4 linked regions of the Homo sapiens genome follow. The protein of the gene in region 1 purifies or fractionates together with the protein of each later gene. This does not show direct contact. Each region holds a gene or a part of one and is shown in the gene's direction. Other genes may lie near its edges.

The links. Proteins that work in one complex are often made in the same cells at the same time.
Region 2: the proteins of SUSD3 (region 1) and SERPINB3 purify together in Homo sapiens (affinity purification with mass spectrometry; 3 studies listed by BioGRID and IntAct, with this or other methods). This does not show direct contact.
Region 3: the proteins of SUSD3 (region 1) and SCGB2A1 purify together in Homo sapiens (affinity purification with mass spectrometry; 3 studies listed by BioGRID and IntAct, with this or other methods). This does not show direct contact.
Region 4: the proteins of SUSD3 (region 1) and PPL purify together in Homo sapiens (affinity purification with mass spectrometry; 3 studies listed by BioGRID and IntAct, with this or other methods). This does not show direct contact.

What each region holds. Positions count from the first base shown.
Region 1 is NC_000009.12:93,074,392-93,079,343, forward strand, and holds part of SUSD3 (sushi domain-containing protein 3), read left to right. Parts: intron 1-1,044; exon of another isoform or gene 1,045-1,091; coding exon of another isoform or gene 1,092-1,113; intron 1,114-1,392; coding exon 1,393-1,581; intron 1,582-3,454; coding exon 3,455-3,602; intron 3,603-4,952. UniProt on the Homo sapiens protein: May play a role in breast tumorigenesis by promoting estrogen-dependent cell proliferation, cell-cell interactions and migration.
Region 2 is NC_000018.10:63,659,094-63,663,079, reverse strand, and holds the start of SERPINB3 (serpin B3), read left to right. Parts: upstream 1-1,186; 5' UTR 1,187-1,234; intron 1,235-1,837; 5' UTR 1,838-1,863; coding exon 1,864-2,028; intron 2,029-2,223; coding exon 2,224-2,280; intron 2,281-3,552; coding exon 3,553-3,681; intron 3,682-3,986. UniProt on the Homo sapiens protein: May act as a papain-like cysteine protease inhibitor to modulate the host immune response against tumor cells. Also functions as an inhibitor of UV-induced apoptosis via suppression of the activity of c-Jun NH(2)-terminal kinase (JNK1).
Region 3 is NC_000011.10:62,207,441-62,211,472, forward strand, and holds the start of SCGB2A1 (mammaglobin-B precursor), read left to right. Parts: upstream 1-1,232; 5' UTR 1,233-1,291; coding exon 1,292-1,346; intron 1,347-2,972; coding exon 2,973-3,160; intron 3,161-4,032. UniProt on the Homo sapiens protein: May bind androgens and other steroids, may also bind estramustine, a chemotherapeutic agent used for prostate cancer. May be under transcriptional regulation of steroid hormones.
Region 4 is NC_000016.10:4,927,149-4,930,648, reverse strand, and holds part of PPL (periplakin), read left to right. Parts: intron 1-3,500. UniProt on the Homo sapiens protein: Component of the cornified envelope of keratinocytes. May link the cornified envelope to desmosomes and intermediate filaments. May act as a localization signal in PKB/AKT-mediated signaling.

The sequences.
Region 1 (4,952 bases):
TGCACACTCCAGCCTGGGCGACAGGGCAAGACTCTGACTCAAAAAAAAAAAAAAAAAAAAAAAAAAAGAACATCACTGTAAGTGCTCTCTGGTATTTTAATGTCTGGATGGCCCTGGGTAAGGGAATCATTCCCTCCTGCTGGAGGCGTGGGTTGTTTCAGCCTTTCACTATTATGTATGGTTCTGAGGTGGGCTTCCCCATAGAGAAATCTTGGCAGCAGATTCTTTTTTTTTTTTTTTTTTTTTTGAGATGCAGTCTCACTCTGTTGCCAGGCTGGAGTGCAGTGATCTTGGCTCACTGCAACCTCTGACTCCCTGGTTCAATCGATTCTCCTGCCTCAGCCTCCTGAGTAGCTGGAATTACAGGCACATGCCACCATGCCCAGCTAATTTTTGTATTTTTAGTAGAGATGGGGTTTCACCATGTTGGCCAGGATGGTCTCAATCCCCGACCTCATGATCCACCTGCCTCGGCCTCCCAAAGTGCTGGGATTACAAGCATGAGCCACCATGCCTGGCCAGCAGATTCTTATTTCCTGTGGCTAAAGGTTCATATGCAACATAGGGTGCTTATTGCATTTACCAAATGCTCTGCAGAAAGGTTGGATCTGTACCCCAGCCCGGGTACAGGGCTTCCCAGGCCCTGCCAACTTGCACATTGTTTTCTTTTTGCCTTTACCTCACCGACGCAGGAAAAATGAGCTCTCCCTTGAATCAACATTTCCTCAATTGCCTGTGGGTCTGCATTTTTCATGACTGTGGGCCACTGGTATCCTTGTGAATTGCTTGTTCACACATTAGAACTTGTTGGTTTTTTTTAAACTGAATATTCAGTTTTCATTGATGTGTAAGACCTCTTCATAGATTAAGACTACCGAACCAACCTTTGACCTATGCTTTCCAAATATCCTTTCCCGAATTTTTCACCTGAGTTGGTTGTTTTCCATTATTAGGGAGCCTCAGAAGCTTTTGCTTTCTGCTTTGTATGCAGTCAAATCTGCTGATCTCTCTCTGTCCCTCTTTTTTTTTTTTTTTTTTTTTTTGTTCTGATTTCTGCCTTTGGAGCCGTGTTTAGGTCATAATCAAAGGCCATGCCTCAGTGTCTCAGGGAAGGTATGTTTGCTTTTATTGTCTTCTAACACTTATTTCTTTTTTTAATGCTCCAATCCTCAACATCTAGAGTGTACTTCATGGAGGGATCCAGCTCTGCGTTGTCCCCCGGTCTGGATGACCCCATGTGACCTCTAGAGCATCCAATGGCCTTTGGAGCTGCACCCCACCCCTGTGCTCCCCAATGCTGTGCCAGCTCCTCACTCCAGGGTCCTGCCCAGCCCTGCCCTGCGTGCCCACCCCCCCCCCCCCGCCATGCCTCATACCTGCCTGTCTCCCCAGGCACGTGCGCTAAGCTGCGGCTACCCCCGCAAGCAACCTTCCAAGTCCTTCGTGGCAATGGTGCTTCCGTGGGGACCGTGCTCATGTTCCGCTGCCCCTCCAACCACCAGATGGTGGGGTCTGGGCTCCTCACCTGCACCTGGAAGGGGAGCATCGCTGAGTGGTCTTCAGGGTCCCCAGTGTGCAAACGTAAGGACCCCTCTCTCAGCTCGGTGGCTCTGGGGGTGGGGGATGGCCCCAAATCCTGTCATGGGGATGGTGTGGGTGGGGATGGCGTGGGTGTCTACTCACAAGCAGCTAGGCCAGTGTGTAGGGTCCCATTCCCAACACTGACAGCTTGCTTACATGTCAGCAGCCGGCTGTAGGCCCTCAGCCCTCCCAGTGCCATGTTGGCAGCACGGACCGAAAACCTAGTAGCGGGCCTCCAATCCTGGCTCTGCTACCGACTCAGCCCCTCACCGCCAAGAGGCTGTGCATGCTCTCTGAGCCAGCACGTTTTCATCTGTTAAGCAGGAAACTATGTTTGTTCATTCATTCATTCATTCATTCATTCATTCATGTACAGGTGCACATGGCCAACTTTAATAGGATATTTCACGTATCAGGAATCTTAAGTACTGGCAACACGGAAGGTCATAACGTGCCTGGCCCTGGAGCTCCCAGTCTGTGGGAGGCAATGGTTTTCTGGTTGTATTTCTTGTACAGGTGTTGAAAGGTCCACAAGATAGTCCCTTTTCAGTGCCCAGCATGACATTTCCAAAATGAAGCTATGTGTGTTATGTTCATGTGTTTTGTGCATAAAAAGGGCTCAGAGTCAAAATAGTTTGGCAGATTCTGGGTTTTTATGCTGCAGAACTTCTCAGAGCCTTTAAAATGTTCACGTGCTAGGTGATTCTCTGAGGATGCGAGTGTTAGGATTAGATTCTGAAAGGCAGAAAACCCAAAATACTAGGATTAACTATGATGGAGCTCAACCTTCAGGGTGGGCAGGCAGATCTGTATAGGCTCCATGGCAGTGGGAGCCAGGCCCCTTCCCTGGCATGGCTCTGCTGGGCATGGCCTCAGCCTCATGATTCAAGATGGCAGCAGCTATGTTCCAGGCAGCTGTTATGGGGTGAGGGGCCCTGGGGCCAAAGAGCAGGCCCCAGTGTCTCAGGGAAGGTTCTTAGAAGTTGCCCCACATCACTTCTTATCTTCCACTGGCCAGAACATGGTCCTGTGACCACTGGGAAATGTAGTCTCCATTTTGGGTGGCCAGGATCCACTAGGGAGCATGGGAAATGGGGCAGGGGACAGGGCCATGTTCTCTACGTGGGGGAGTAAACGGTGTTGCTCAAATTAGGATTCCGAGGCCTTTTTTAGCCAGAACATCCAGTAGAATCTGATGGAACTAGTTTTTGGAGCATAGCTGAGGTCACACAGCAGATACATAGTATTTTGGACCTTCCTGGAAAGTGACCTGAGAAGGCATGTAGGCCCCCTGAAGAATGTTGCCACCTTGGGGCATTGTGAAAACCCAGACCATGGGCTGGGCAAGGCCTCCTCAGTACTGTCTATTGTCACCTCCTCTCTGTGGCCCACCCTTCCTTCATTCCTCAGGCAGGACTTCAGTGGGTAGGAGCCAAGGAGGCCATCACTCTGAACTCCCTGCCAGAACTTCTGTAATTGACCACTCTGCAGACTTCTACATACCCTACAAAACCCTGCTCAAATACCCTCTTCAGTTAGCCACTCTGCACACTCCTACACACCCTGGAAAACCCTGCTTAAATACCCCCTTTAAATAGCCACTCTGCATACTCCTACACACCCTGCTCAAATAACCTGCTTCTTGGGGAGAGTCTTCTCTGATAGTCCCACCTCCAAATATAGTTTGCACAGATCTTTGCCTCAGCCCCCAGCACCTCACTGCCCCCTTACCATGCAAACAGGGCTCACTGAGGGCTGCCCAGGCCCTGTCTACACCCAGGCCCTACCCGTACCACCCCTGAGACCCCCAACCCCTGGGCCAAGCAAATCTGGGCAAACCTCGCCCAGGAGCTGGTGGTTGTCTCCCACACAGTGGTGCCACCACACGAGACCTTTGGCTTCAAGGTGGCCGTGATCGCCTCCATTGTGAGCTGTGCCATCATCCTGCTCATGTCCATGGCCTTCCTCACCTGCTGCCTCCTCAAGTGCGTGAAGAAGAGCAAGCGGCGGCGCTCCAACAGGTACGGTGGCCTCATGATCTCAGGGTCCTCCCGGGAGGCGCCTCTTGGCACCATGGGAGGAGGAAAGGACAGAGTGTTTCAAGGGAACCCCGGCACTGCCCTCAGGGCACCCGTTCCTACCACTGCTGCTCTGGGCCTGCGTCTCCCCCCCAAGTGCTGCTCCCGGCCCACGCAGCAGCCAGGGGCAGCATCACAGCTGGGGGACATGTGGGCCCCCAAGGCCCTGCTCTTAGGCCAGGCTATGGGTTCACGGGGGATTATTTTATTTATTTATTTTTTTTGAGACGGAGTCTTGCTCTGTCACCCAGGCGACAGAGTACAGTAGCGTGATCTCAGCTCACTGCAACCTCCGCCTCCTGGGTTAAAGCAATTCTCCTGCCTCAGCCTTCCTAGAAGCTGGGATTATAGGTATGTACCACCACACTCGGCTAATTTTTTGTATTTTTAGTGGAGATGGGGTTTCACCATATTGGCCAGGCTGGTCTCAAACTCCTGACCTCTGGTGATCCGCCCAGTGATCTGCCTCCCAAAGTGCTGGGATTACAGGCGTGAGCCACCGCGCCCGGCCCGTTTTATTCTTAAACCTGCACACATATGCAGTATGTACTCTGCTGTGTTAACGGCCTGCAGGGCTGCCACACACGCCCCCTAAACCTTGAGAGGGAGTCACTGTCACTGCAGATGGAGGGCTGGTTAACCACAGCCCACCAGCGAAGTCCGGCTGTCTGTCAGGTTTTTTCCCCATGGTAATTTATTATTATTTTTTGTTTTTATTTTTTATTGTGGTAAAATATCAATACATAAAACTTAACCTTTTTTTTTTTGAGACGGAGTCTCACTCTGTCGCCCAGGCTGGAGTGCAGTGGCTCCATCTCAGCTCACTGCAAGCTCCACCTCCTGGGATCACGCCATTCTCCTGCCTCAGCCTCCCGAGTAGCTGGGACTACAAGCGCCCGCCACCATGCTCAGCTAATTTTTTTTTGTATTTTTAGTACAGACGGGGTTTCACCGTGTTAGCCAGGATGGTCTCGAGCTCCTGACCTCATGATCCACCTGCCACGGCCTCCCAAAGTGCTGGGATTACAGGCATGAGCCACTGCGCCTGGCCAAAACTTAACCTTTTTAACGTCTACAGTTCAGTAGCATTAAGTATGTTCACGATGTAGTGCAGCCATTAGCACTGTCCAGCCCTAGAACTTTCCACCACCTGTATTTGTAAGTAAAGTTTTATTGGAACACAGCCATGTTCATTGTCTACTGGTGTGTGGCTACTTTTGGGCTGCAATTGCAGAGTTTAGCTGTGGGAGAAATCATGTGTCTCACCACACCAAAAACATCCACTGCCCAGCT
Region 2 (3,986 bases), on another chromosome or scaffold:
ACAGGTCAAGCAACTTCTTTTTCTGCTTAATTTTTAAATGAAAAATTAGAAAGCTGACATTCAAAATGGCCCGTCTGTTTCAATTGCTCTTCTCAGTGTCAGCCTGTTAACTCAATGTGTTAGTCTGTTTTCATGCTGCTGATAAAGACATACCTGAGATTAGGAAGTAAAAGAGGTTTAATTGGACTTAGAGTTCCACGTGATTGGGGAGGCCTCAGAATCACGGTAGGAGGCAAAAGTTATTCTTACATGGTGGCTGCAAGAGAAAATGAGGAAGAAGCAAAAGAAGAAACCCCTAATAAACCCATTGGATCTCCTGAGACTTATTAACTATCATGAGAATAGCACAAGAAAGACCGGCCCCCATGATTCAATTACCTCTACCTGGGTCCCTCCAACAACATGTGGAAATTCTGGTAGATACAATTCAAGTTGAGATTTGGGTGGGAACACAGCCAAACCATATCACTCAGCAAGGCAGATAACTTTCTCACTGAGCCTATGCAACAGAAAACCATCTGGGATGGTTGTAAGGGGCACAGGAAGTGACTGGTAGGATCACTGCCAAAGCTGAGCATTCAGGAGAAGGCAATAGAATCCTATTCTCCATAGTATGCTATAAGATACTGAAGTACACTTCTTCACTATCTCTTTGGACTTAGAATTAGCACTATATTCCTTGTTATACAGAAAAATTACTAAGGAAATTCATAGGATGACAAAAACTTTCAGAACTGAAAAACAGGAAATGTAAGCTTTTTAGTTCTTTGGTATTCGAAGTATGCCTAAAAGACAATGCAAAATCCAAGAAAAGAATGGTGGGGTTTTTGTTTGTTTGTTTTTGTTTTTGTTTTACAGCTGGAGTAGAATACAAAGGGATGGAGTTGAAACAAATGAGAGGAAATTGGAATTCTAAACTTATTCTCATTGGCATTAGAAAGGCACCTACATGTATTTCACATGAGCCGGTGACTGCTGACTTGCATTCTTATTTTTTCCCTATAGATTAAAAAGGAGGTACAATGGTAGAACTGTAATCCTGTCCTTTGTCATAAATTTTCGTATTCATAAAGGTGAGTGTTAGCCCGCTTGTGAAATCTGAAGTTGAGTAACTTCAAATACTAACCACAGAGGGAGAGGCAGCAAGAGGAGAGGCATAAATTCAGGATCTCACCCTTCATTCCACAGACACACATAGCCTCTCTGCCCACCTCTGCTTCCTCTAGGAACACAGGTAAGAGCTTCAAGCCTCTCCAGCTTAATAACATGAATTATTTTTGAGAATAATAATGATACTGTGTTCTATATCATGCATCTCCTGCATTCTGTCTGATTATATTTTACTTATTCTGCCAGAGCAAAATTAAAATACCTATTTCATCTGATTTGTCCTTTATCTAAATTGCTTAGTTCCAAGTAAACCAAGGCACTTTTAGGAACACAGAGGGAGAGTGCCTTGCAGCCAGAGAGTCTTGAAGGAGATGTCAGGGACGCATCTTAACAGCTGGTTGGATGTGATCCACAGAGGTCTCCTGTTAGCATTCATTGTAAAGCCTTCCTACCTAGCCCTAGTGTAGCCAGCAATGAAGGAAAGAGGGTCTATTACTTATTTACAGTAGTCTTTAAAAACACTAATTTTGTGAGGCTTCTAATTAAGACATTAATATATTTAATATATGCACATTGTAGAAAGATTGAAACGTTAAAAATAAGATGAGGAAAACTTTAAATGTCAAAATCTCACAACACAGATATATAATTTCTTTAAGAAAATTGTACTACAAAATACCATTCCATTTATTAAAGTCATTCTGACAGGAATCTGATGCTTTTCCAGGAGTTCCAGATCACATCGAGTTCACCATGAATTCACTCAGTGAAGCCAACACCAAGTTCATGTTCGACCTGTTCCAACAGTTCAGAAAATCAAAAGAGAACAACATCTTCTATTCCCCTATCAGCATCACATCAGCATTAGGGATGGTCCTCTTAGGAGCCAAAGACAACACTGCACAACAGATTAAGAAGGTAGCTATCAGCATCATTATGTTGTCCTGTTGCAGTTTTTCTCTGGTTCCGTCGGCTAGCACGCAGATGGTAATAGATGTGGTGGTCTGATGGGTAGCACAGGGGGCTGAGCAGGAATTCCCGTAACTGTGAGACCACTGACTTAAACAGATCTTTTGAGTAAAGTTTTCTTGTCCCGCTTCATGTCTCTTCCAGGTTCTTCACTTTGATCAAGTCACAGAGAACACCACAGGAAAAGCTGCAACATATCATGTGAGTCACAGAGCACTATGGTTCAGCTTTAGATCCCCGAACAGGTCATAGTTTGAACCTGGAACTTCACAGAAACTAAGAAAAGGCCATTTTTAGGGAAAATCTTGGACACAAAGATTGAGACATACAGAGTGGGTTGGCATTTCATGGCACATAATTATTATTCCTCCTTTCTTCGTTACTGAAAGACAGTCAGCACTGTACCTCAGAGCATAGGTCTGGATCAGGATAGGCTAGGTTCAGACTCCAGCTTTGCTCTTCACAAATGGTGAACATGAGCAGGACACAACTGCTCAGAGTCCCAGTGACCTCATCCCAGAAAACTAAGGGTAATAAGAAATCTGACTCAATACATGCAAATACATGCAAATGTTTACAACATTGCCTTGCCCATAAAATGTCATAATAAATGTTATTATTATTATAAAATAGCTATAATTATACTAATCACAATAATGTTGCAAAATATTTAATTTTCATTGAGTCATTAATGAGATAAAGAGGAATAAGCACAAGTCCAACTATATTTTGGAAAATGATTGCTATGGAATATATTGGTTTAGAGCCTTAATAGTGCAAAATGCTTTGCTGGAAAGTAGAAGTTTCTAGATTTAAACAGGCTTAGGTTCAAAACGTGGCACTTCTAATTTATGTCTCTATGAAGAGGTTTACTTTCCATTCTCTGAGCTTTCTTGTTTTCACCTGAATTGAACTAAAGACTTAAAGTTACCCATGTAAAGTCCTTAGCCATGTACCTGGCACACACTCTTCTTACGTGCAGAGAATGACCATCATGAGGAAACAGTCACAGATCAGTCAATGTGTCCTACAAGATAACAGCACCAACAGGTATAACAGGGCTTCCTGGCATAATCTATTTAAAATATCCAACCTTCAACATACTCATATCCTTGATGACTGTTAGAAGTGAAATATGGTCCTTGCCTTTAAGGAGCTGAGAGTTTAACTGGGAAGCTAAACCTAACCCTTTAAACCAACAAGGACAAAATCCAGTGGTAGACAGTGCTGCATCTATAGTTCAGAAGAGAAAAGATTGCAGTACATTAGAGCAAGAAGAATTTCCTGGAAGAAGTGAAACATAAGGTGGATTTTGAAGGGTATTTGAGGTGAAATACACCAAGTATCAGGGAATAAGCTCAAAGGTCCTCATTGAGACTACCAGCCATTAGGGACTGATCTAACAGACTTAGCATGGGTTTAGTATTTACATTGATACAGCAATTGAATGATCTCCTTTTTTGATGTTTGAAGGTTGATAGGTCAGGAAATGTTCATCACCAGTTTCAAAAGCTTCTGACTGAATTCAACAAATCCACTGATGCATATGAGCTGAAGATCGCCAACAAGCTCTTCGGAGAAAAAACGTATCTATTTTTACAGGTAATTTCACCTGGCCTACCCACATTTCATTTGCATCCTGATGTCTGTGTCTCTGAGTGGCCAAATGGAAGAAAGCAAGGCAGATGAGCCTGACCGATCCAGGTGGAGAGCATTTACTCAGAGTGCAATAGCTCCGTTTCCACAACTCTCCCCCACTGGAGTGTCCCAGACCCTAACAATACATCACTGAAGTGTGGATTTAGGGATAATCTTGTAATAAAAGAGGAGGTTGGGTAATAGAGTGAGTAAGAGTAATAAGTAATAAGATACCATCGATAAACTGGCACTGACTCAGTCACATACGA
Region 3 (4,032 bases), on another chromosome or scaffold:
AGCATTGTAATTTGCCCAAAGACACAGCATGAGTACGTGTGGCCTCCAGGATCCACACCCACACCTGCCCAAATCTTATCACCTAAATCTCATCATCACCCAACCCCATTGCCACCCACTGCCTAGCACTGCCTGCCCAAGCAGTCAGTTACTCCACTCACTCACAGCATCCTCTCAGTCAGTGGATAGAAAACCGTAAAAGGCTAACAAAGAACTAAGCACAAATTAAATTATAAATATATTGTAAAATAAATTTGTAAAGTTGAATTAACTTAGTGTTGTAATTCTTAACAAGAATAACAAGAAGCTTTCAGTAGAGGTTAGATATTAATGTTTTCCCCAAAACTTAAAGCACTTTTCGGGGCTGGGCATGGTGGCTCACGCCTGTAATCCCAGCACTTTGGGAGGCTGAGTGAGGTGGATCTCCTGAGGTCAGAAGTTCGAGACCAGCCTGGCCAAAATGGTGAAACCCTGTCTCTACTAAAAATACAAAAATTAGCCAGGTGTCCTGGCGCATGCCTGTAATCCCAGCTACCCAGGAGGCTGAGGCAGGAGAATTTCTGGAACCCGGGAGGCGGAGGCTGCAGTGAGCCAAGATCGCACCACTGCACTCCAGCCTGGGCAATAGAGTGAGACTCTGTCTCAAAACAACAACAACAACAGCAACAAAACCCCAAAAAACAAAAACAAAAAAACCCGCTTTTCTGAAAAAGAAATGTCTATGGATTAGGAAGGTCTGCCTCCCATAGGAAGATGCAGGTATTGCACATAGCCCAAATATTTGATGATTCCAGGACCGGCAGATACACAAGTTATGAAACTGTTTGTACCTTGAAGAATAACGAGAAGAGGAGGAGACCAAGAGGAATAGAAGAAAAAGAATAGAAGGAGGAGGAGGAAGAAGGGAAGGAGGACTAGAAGAAAACTACAATAATAACAACATTGTTGAGACCACAAGATCACGCCACTGGGTTTTGCTTTATATTTTGGAAAACACTGTCACATCCATTTTACTAAAAGCCATGTATCATTATTGTAGTCCCCAGATTGTCAGGGATCCAAATATTACTGCCTTCTTGGTTTCTACAAACAGAGCACAGGCTGGCTGTGTTCCCATTGGTGTACACTATTGTGTCCTGGTCCCATGCCAGGTTGACACATTGCCTCATTCCTGGGAGGGACTAAGGTGCCTCCCTGGGGAATAAATAGAGCAGGGCTGGGTACTCACCTCCACAGCAACTTCCTTGATCCCTGCCACGCACGACTGAACACAGACAGCAGCCGCCTCGCCATGAAGCTGCTGATGGTCCTCATGCTGGCGGCCCTCCTCCTGCACTGCTATGCAGGTGAGTTCTGGGCAGAGAGGGCTGCTTCTGGGCTAGGAATTGTCACCTGGGCCCCTGTAGAAGAACTCCCAACCTCTAATCCCCAGCACAGACGAGCCCCAGTGTGAAGGGCCTGGGTGCGATAGGCCTTAGGATCCCCATGAGTTCCTGACAATCAAGCATGCAGTGTCCTCATGGGCTGTCCCCTGCATTGGAGCTGCACACAGTGTATCATGGCACTCAGCGTCTCACCATGGTCACGGTGACCATAGAAACCAGGATGAGTCTCAGGATTAAATATTGAAATGAACTATTTCAGTGGGGCAAGGGAGAGATGGCATCTACACCTAGAAATCAGGAAATAATCATGGGTCTCCTTGAATATGGAACGAAATAGGAAACCTCCCAGGACAGAAGGCCCAGGCTGCAGAGTGTGACCCAGTGTCTCTCACCCTGTGTGGCTCACTCTGTGTTCTCAGAGTTGATCTGGGTCCTTCTGGGATGCCCTTACCCTCCCAGTTGCTTCAGGCTCAAGGCAGACAGGTGAGAACTCACAACCCCTGGAGTCTCCTTCCAGCACTAAAGATTCAGTGGGAGGAAAAAGCCCCGGCTGCTGGAATCAGCGCTAATATTTCCATAGGTAGCCTGCCTTGTGCAGTTCACAAAGGTGGATTCCAAACCCTACCGTATTGGCATCCAAGGTAGGTGCAGATGTGTAGAAGGGTGACAAGCTCACAGTCAACTAACTGGAAAATCACAAAGTCCAGAGCACAACCAGCTCACATGAAGCCACGTCCTGAGCTCGTTCCTCTCCCTTACAGTGGGAGGTGACCTCAGATCCCCTCATGAACAAGCTCTATTTCACATTCATGTGTGTGTGTGTGTGTGTGTGTGTGTGTGTGTGTGTGTGTGTTTGAGACAGGGTCTTGCTCTGTCACCCAGGCTGGGACTGGGACTGGTGTGCAATGGCACAGTCTCAGCTCACTGCAACCTCTTCCTCGAAGGCTCAAGTAATGCTCCTGCCTCAGCCTCCCGAGTAGCTGGGACTACAGGTGGACACCACTATGCCTGGCTAATTTTTAAATTTTTTGTAGAGATGAGGTCTCCCTGTGTTGTCCAGGCTGGTCTTAAACTCCTGAGCTCAAGCAATTCGCCTGCCTTGGCCTCCCTAAGTGCTGGGATTACAGGCGTGAGCCACCATACCTGGCCACACATTCCCTTTTATTGCAGTAGAGTCAACAGAACTAATGGACAATGTCCTAGACCCATTCATCTGAAATCCTTGGAAACCCTACCTGATGCTGGGCATGATAACAGGGAAGCATTGCATGACTTTGAACCAAGAAAGTCCAAGTAGTGTTTGCTATGTCCCCCCAGTCAGAACACCTCATTTCTCGAGGGTCCTCTTCACCAAGAATACACAGGGTTGGGCTTCTCTGGGTTTGGAAGGTCAGAGAGAATTTGCAGAGCCTGAGTTTACACTCCCAGAATTGAGAACTCTGCATACTGCACCAAAATCTTTCTGAACCTCGGTCTGTCCCTGGAGGTACGAAGATAGCCAGCTTCCCAATTCATCTGTAGAATGAATCACACCTCTAGTAATGGCCCATGTTCTTGTGTCTTTTTTTTTTTTTTTTTTTTTTCCAGATTCTGGCTGCAAACTCCTGGAGGACATGGTTGAAAAGACCATCAATTCCGACATATCTATACCTGAATACAAAGAGCTTCTTCAAGAGTTCATAGACAGTGATGCCGCTGCAGAGGCTATGGGGAAATTCAAGCAGTGTTTCCTCAACCAGTCACATAGAACTCTGAAAAACTTTGGACTGATGATGGTAATTTGGGTTTCTTCTTATGTACCCTTTGAAAATCACTGATCAGAACCAGCGGGCTCTAAATTTGGCACCAAGAATGCCAAGCAACTGGTGAACAAACTTTCTTTATATATCAATTCATTAAACTTTGTCTCCAGGCTGCTTTGCCACTTCACATTGAGAATCTTTAGGGAGTGATAAATGGAAAAGGCAAAAAGGAGAAAAGAAAGCCTTAGAGATCACCCGTCTACCTCTGACCTCACCAGTCCCTTCTCACACAGACACAGACACACATAAGCACACAAGTATAGACACACACAGACACACGGGGACAGGCATCGGCATTTTTTTTTTTTTTTTTGAGACGGAGTTTCGCTCTGTCACTCAGGCTGGAGTGTAGTGGCGTGAATCTCGGCTCACTGCAACCTCCACCTCCCGGGTTCAAGAGATTTGCCTGCCTCCACCTCCCGAGTAGTTGGGATTACAGGTGTGCGCCACCACGCCGGGCTAATTTTTGTATTTTAACTAGAGAAGGAGTTTCACCATGTTGGCCAGGCTGGTCTCAAACTCCTAACCTCAAGTGATCTGCCTCCCTTGGCCTCCCAGAGTTCTGAGATTACAGGTCTGAGCCCCCGCACCCAGCCAGAACATGCACATTTTTATCAAGAGAAAATATCTGGTTCTCAAGAGATCACACACTTGTAGGAGCAATCTACTAAGAAATTTCCTACTTTCACAAAAACAAATATTCAAAACATTCTTATTTTTTTTTATCTAGCTCAGAAAATACAATTTGTGCAAATTCTGCATTTTCTAAAATAAAGAAAAAAATTTTTTTGAGATGGAGTTTCACTCTGTTGCCCAGGCTGGAGTGCAGTGGCATGATCTTCGTT
Region 4 (3,500 bases), on another chromosome or scaffold:
CTTGGTAGCTCTTATCTCAGCAGCTATGTGACTCCGGGGTAGCCACATGTGGCTGTGTGGCTGCCTTCCCCCAGACACTGGTGCTACACGCGTGCTGAATGAATGAATGAATGAGAGTAAGCCATGGGGGACTGCTAAGATTCTCCCCTTCCCTCAGCATTTCAAGAGAGCATACATTGCCCTGCGCTTCACACCCCAGGACCAGCAGAGCCCGGAGGTGGGGATGAATGGGGCAGGGGTTCCAGCTAGTGGAAAGGAGTGCGAGGCCTGAGCAGGCTGCCCCCTGCCCTGTCCCCATCCAGTCACCTCCTGCGTGCAGGACGGTGAGCAGAGAGTTGGCTGAGTACACAGCTGGCAGCAATGCGGAGTGATAGTGAGATAAAGGAGGGCCCTGACCCAGCCACACAGGCTTCTTCAGGAGAGGTCCTCCACGCCGAACCCGGGGATCAGTTGGAGATGAGAGGATAAAGAGAGTGCAGTTGACAGAAGGTGACGGGGATGTGTGTATCCACGACCCGAAAAGGCATGACAGTGAGCAAGCAAAGCAAGTTGATGAAGGATGCAAAGATGATGCTTGCATATATACATTTTTAGAAACATACACAGAGCAATTCCACTTACTCTTCCTGAATGCAGATGTGTCTATGTATTGGAAAGCTTAGGGAACCAGGTGCAGTGGTTCGCACTTGTCCTAGCGCTTTGGGAGGCCAAGGCGGGAGGATGACTTGAGGCCAGGAGTTGAAGACGAGCCTGGGCAACATAGTGAGACCCTATTTCTACCAAAAAAAAAAAAAAATTAGCTGGGCATGGTGGTGCATGCCTCTAGTCTTAGCTACTCAGGAGGCTGAGAGGGGAGGATCCCTGAGTCCAGGAATTCAAGGCTGCAGTGAGCTGTGATTGTGCCACTGCACTCCAGCCTGGGCAACAGAGCAAGACCCTGTCTCTAAATAAATAAAATAAAACAGGCTTAGGAAGAACCAGTAAATCTAAAATTCTGCTACTCCTAAGAAGGGGCCTGAAAGGATAATGAACAATAACATTTCTCTTCCTTTTTAGAAAAATCTGCAGCAAAGATGGTACTGTGAAAACATCAACCAAACCGTGGTGGTGGGGACATGCGTGGCTGATTCTTTTCAGTACTTTTCTGCATGTCTGAGTAGATCACGAGTTTTCCAGTTTAGGTGAAGGGTGGAGTAGAGAAGGCGAGCTGGCGTGGGGCACAGCTGGCGGGGGGCACAGCGTGGGAAGAGCCTGCAGGCAAGCCCTGAGTCCTGGGTCTCAGAGTCCAGTCCATAGCAAAATAAAAGGTCTGGGAGAGGAAGAAGAGGGACCTCAGGAAGCAAAGGGGGCCCAGTCCTGGAAGGCAAGCAGGCAGGTTCTGGATGGGGAGACAAAAATGGAGAGTCTCTGCAAGGAAGTGAGAGGGGAGGGGACCAGAACTGGGAAAGGTATGAACACAGAAAGGCCTTGAGGTTGGGTGCTAGCTTAAAACCATCACCCTAAATTATGATTATTACATTGTCTGAGATAAATTCTACCCTCAGCTCTCGTTCCAAGTGAGGCTCAGAGAGTTTGAGTGACTCGCTCCAGGACTCTCGGCAGATCTTTTTTTTTTTTTTTTTTTTTTTTTTTTTTAAGGTAGAGTTTCACTTTTGTTGCCCAGGCTGGAGTGAAGTGACACAATCTCAGCTCACTGCAACCTCTCTGCCTCCTGGGTTCAAGTGATTCTCCTGCCTCAGCCTCCCAAGTAGCTGGGATTACAGGCGCCCACCACCACGCCTGGCTATATTTTGTATTTTTAGTAGAGACGGGGTTTCACCATGTTGGCCAGGCTGGTCGCAAACACCTGACCTCAGGTGATCCACCTGCCTCGGCTTCCTAAAGTGCTGGGATTACAGGCATGAGCCACTGCTCCCAGCCAAATAGAGTTTCTTATCTGAGATTGAAGCAGGGTTGAAGCCCTGTCTCTTCTTTGTGGTACAAACTTGGAATCCTTTCCCACCCTTCGATGGGAAACAAACCATCGCCATGGCGAAGGCAGAGAATTTGAAACCCTAAAAGGTATCAGCCTGAAATCCTAGCCCAGGCAGTGGGGGCAGCAAAAAATTCTGCAAGTTCTATTTCTCCCACAGCCCTGCGGCCTTGCAGGCTCAGCCAGCAGCTCTGGTGTGTTTTATCTTACAAAGCATGACAAAAACCCTCTGCCTAGGAAAGGATGGGCGGGGCGGCCAGGACACCCTGCCAGCCCTCTCAAAGTGTCTGGGTAAGAACTGCTGAGATGGCCGGGCACAGTGGCCCATGCCTGTAATCCCAACACTCTGGGAGGCCTAAGGTCAGGTGTTGGAGACCAGCCTGGCCAACATGGTGAAACCCTGTCCCTACTAAAAATACAAAATATATTTTGTGTTTGAGCCCAAGAGTTGAAGGCTGCAGTGAGTGAAGTGCAGCAATGCACTTCAGCCTGAATAACAGAGCAAGACTCTGTCTCAAAAAATGAAAAAGGAGGCTGGTGCTCTTTCTCCAGTGGTCCTGAACCCAGAGTGACATCCTGATGCCTTGGGGCACCAAAGTTGGCTTGAGCCCTGTTTATCCCCCGAGTCTAGGAATTCAAAGCTGCAGTGAGCTATGAATCCTCCCACCTCAGCCTCCTGAGCAGCCAGGACTAGAGGCATGCACAACCATGCCCAGCTAATTTTATTTATTTATTTATTTTTGGTAGAAATAGGGTCTTGCTGTGTTGCCCTGTCTTCAAGACCTGCCTTGGTGTTACCTGAAGCAGCTTGAACTTCTGTATGTTTGTAAAAGGAGCCCAAAAGCACTCACCTGACACAGAACCCTAGGCCCCATCAGAGGCCTGGAGGCAGGGCGGCCTTCCCTGGGCAGAAACAGATTAGGCCTTAAAAACAGACCTGGAATTACTACACCAGCAACCTTCTCATCTTAGGATATATTTCCACAGGATTAATAGCTGGGTGTGAGGACATTTACTGTCTAATTAGCACAGGAGTTTCTAGTAGTGAGAGAATCAGTCAATTGACCAATCAATCTGGTATTCATTGGGCACATTCTGTGTACTGCTTTCTCACAGGGCTTCCTTCCTATAGAGATCTAGGATTCTTCGGCATCTTGCTTCTTTTAAACCTTGCTGTGGTTCAGTTCCTTGTTCTCATCCCTGGCTGTACATTAGAATCACCTGAGGAGTTTTGAACAGCATGTCAGAGCCCTTTCCAAGACCAGTTAAGTCAAAATCTCCATGGACATGGGTCCAGACATCATTCTTTTGATGTGCAGCTGTTGGGAACCACATAGTTACATGGATTGCCTCGCTCCCTCTTGTCTTTGAGATATATGGACAGTGCTTTCTCTCTTCAGTATCAGTTGCCTGGTATGTCACTCTCCATTCTTTATTCTCAACCTTCCTGTATCATTTAGTTTCAAGTGTGTGTGTCTTATAAAATGGCATATAGCTTGGGGAAGGTGTGTGTTTTGTAATCTCACCG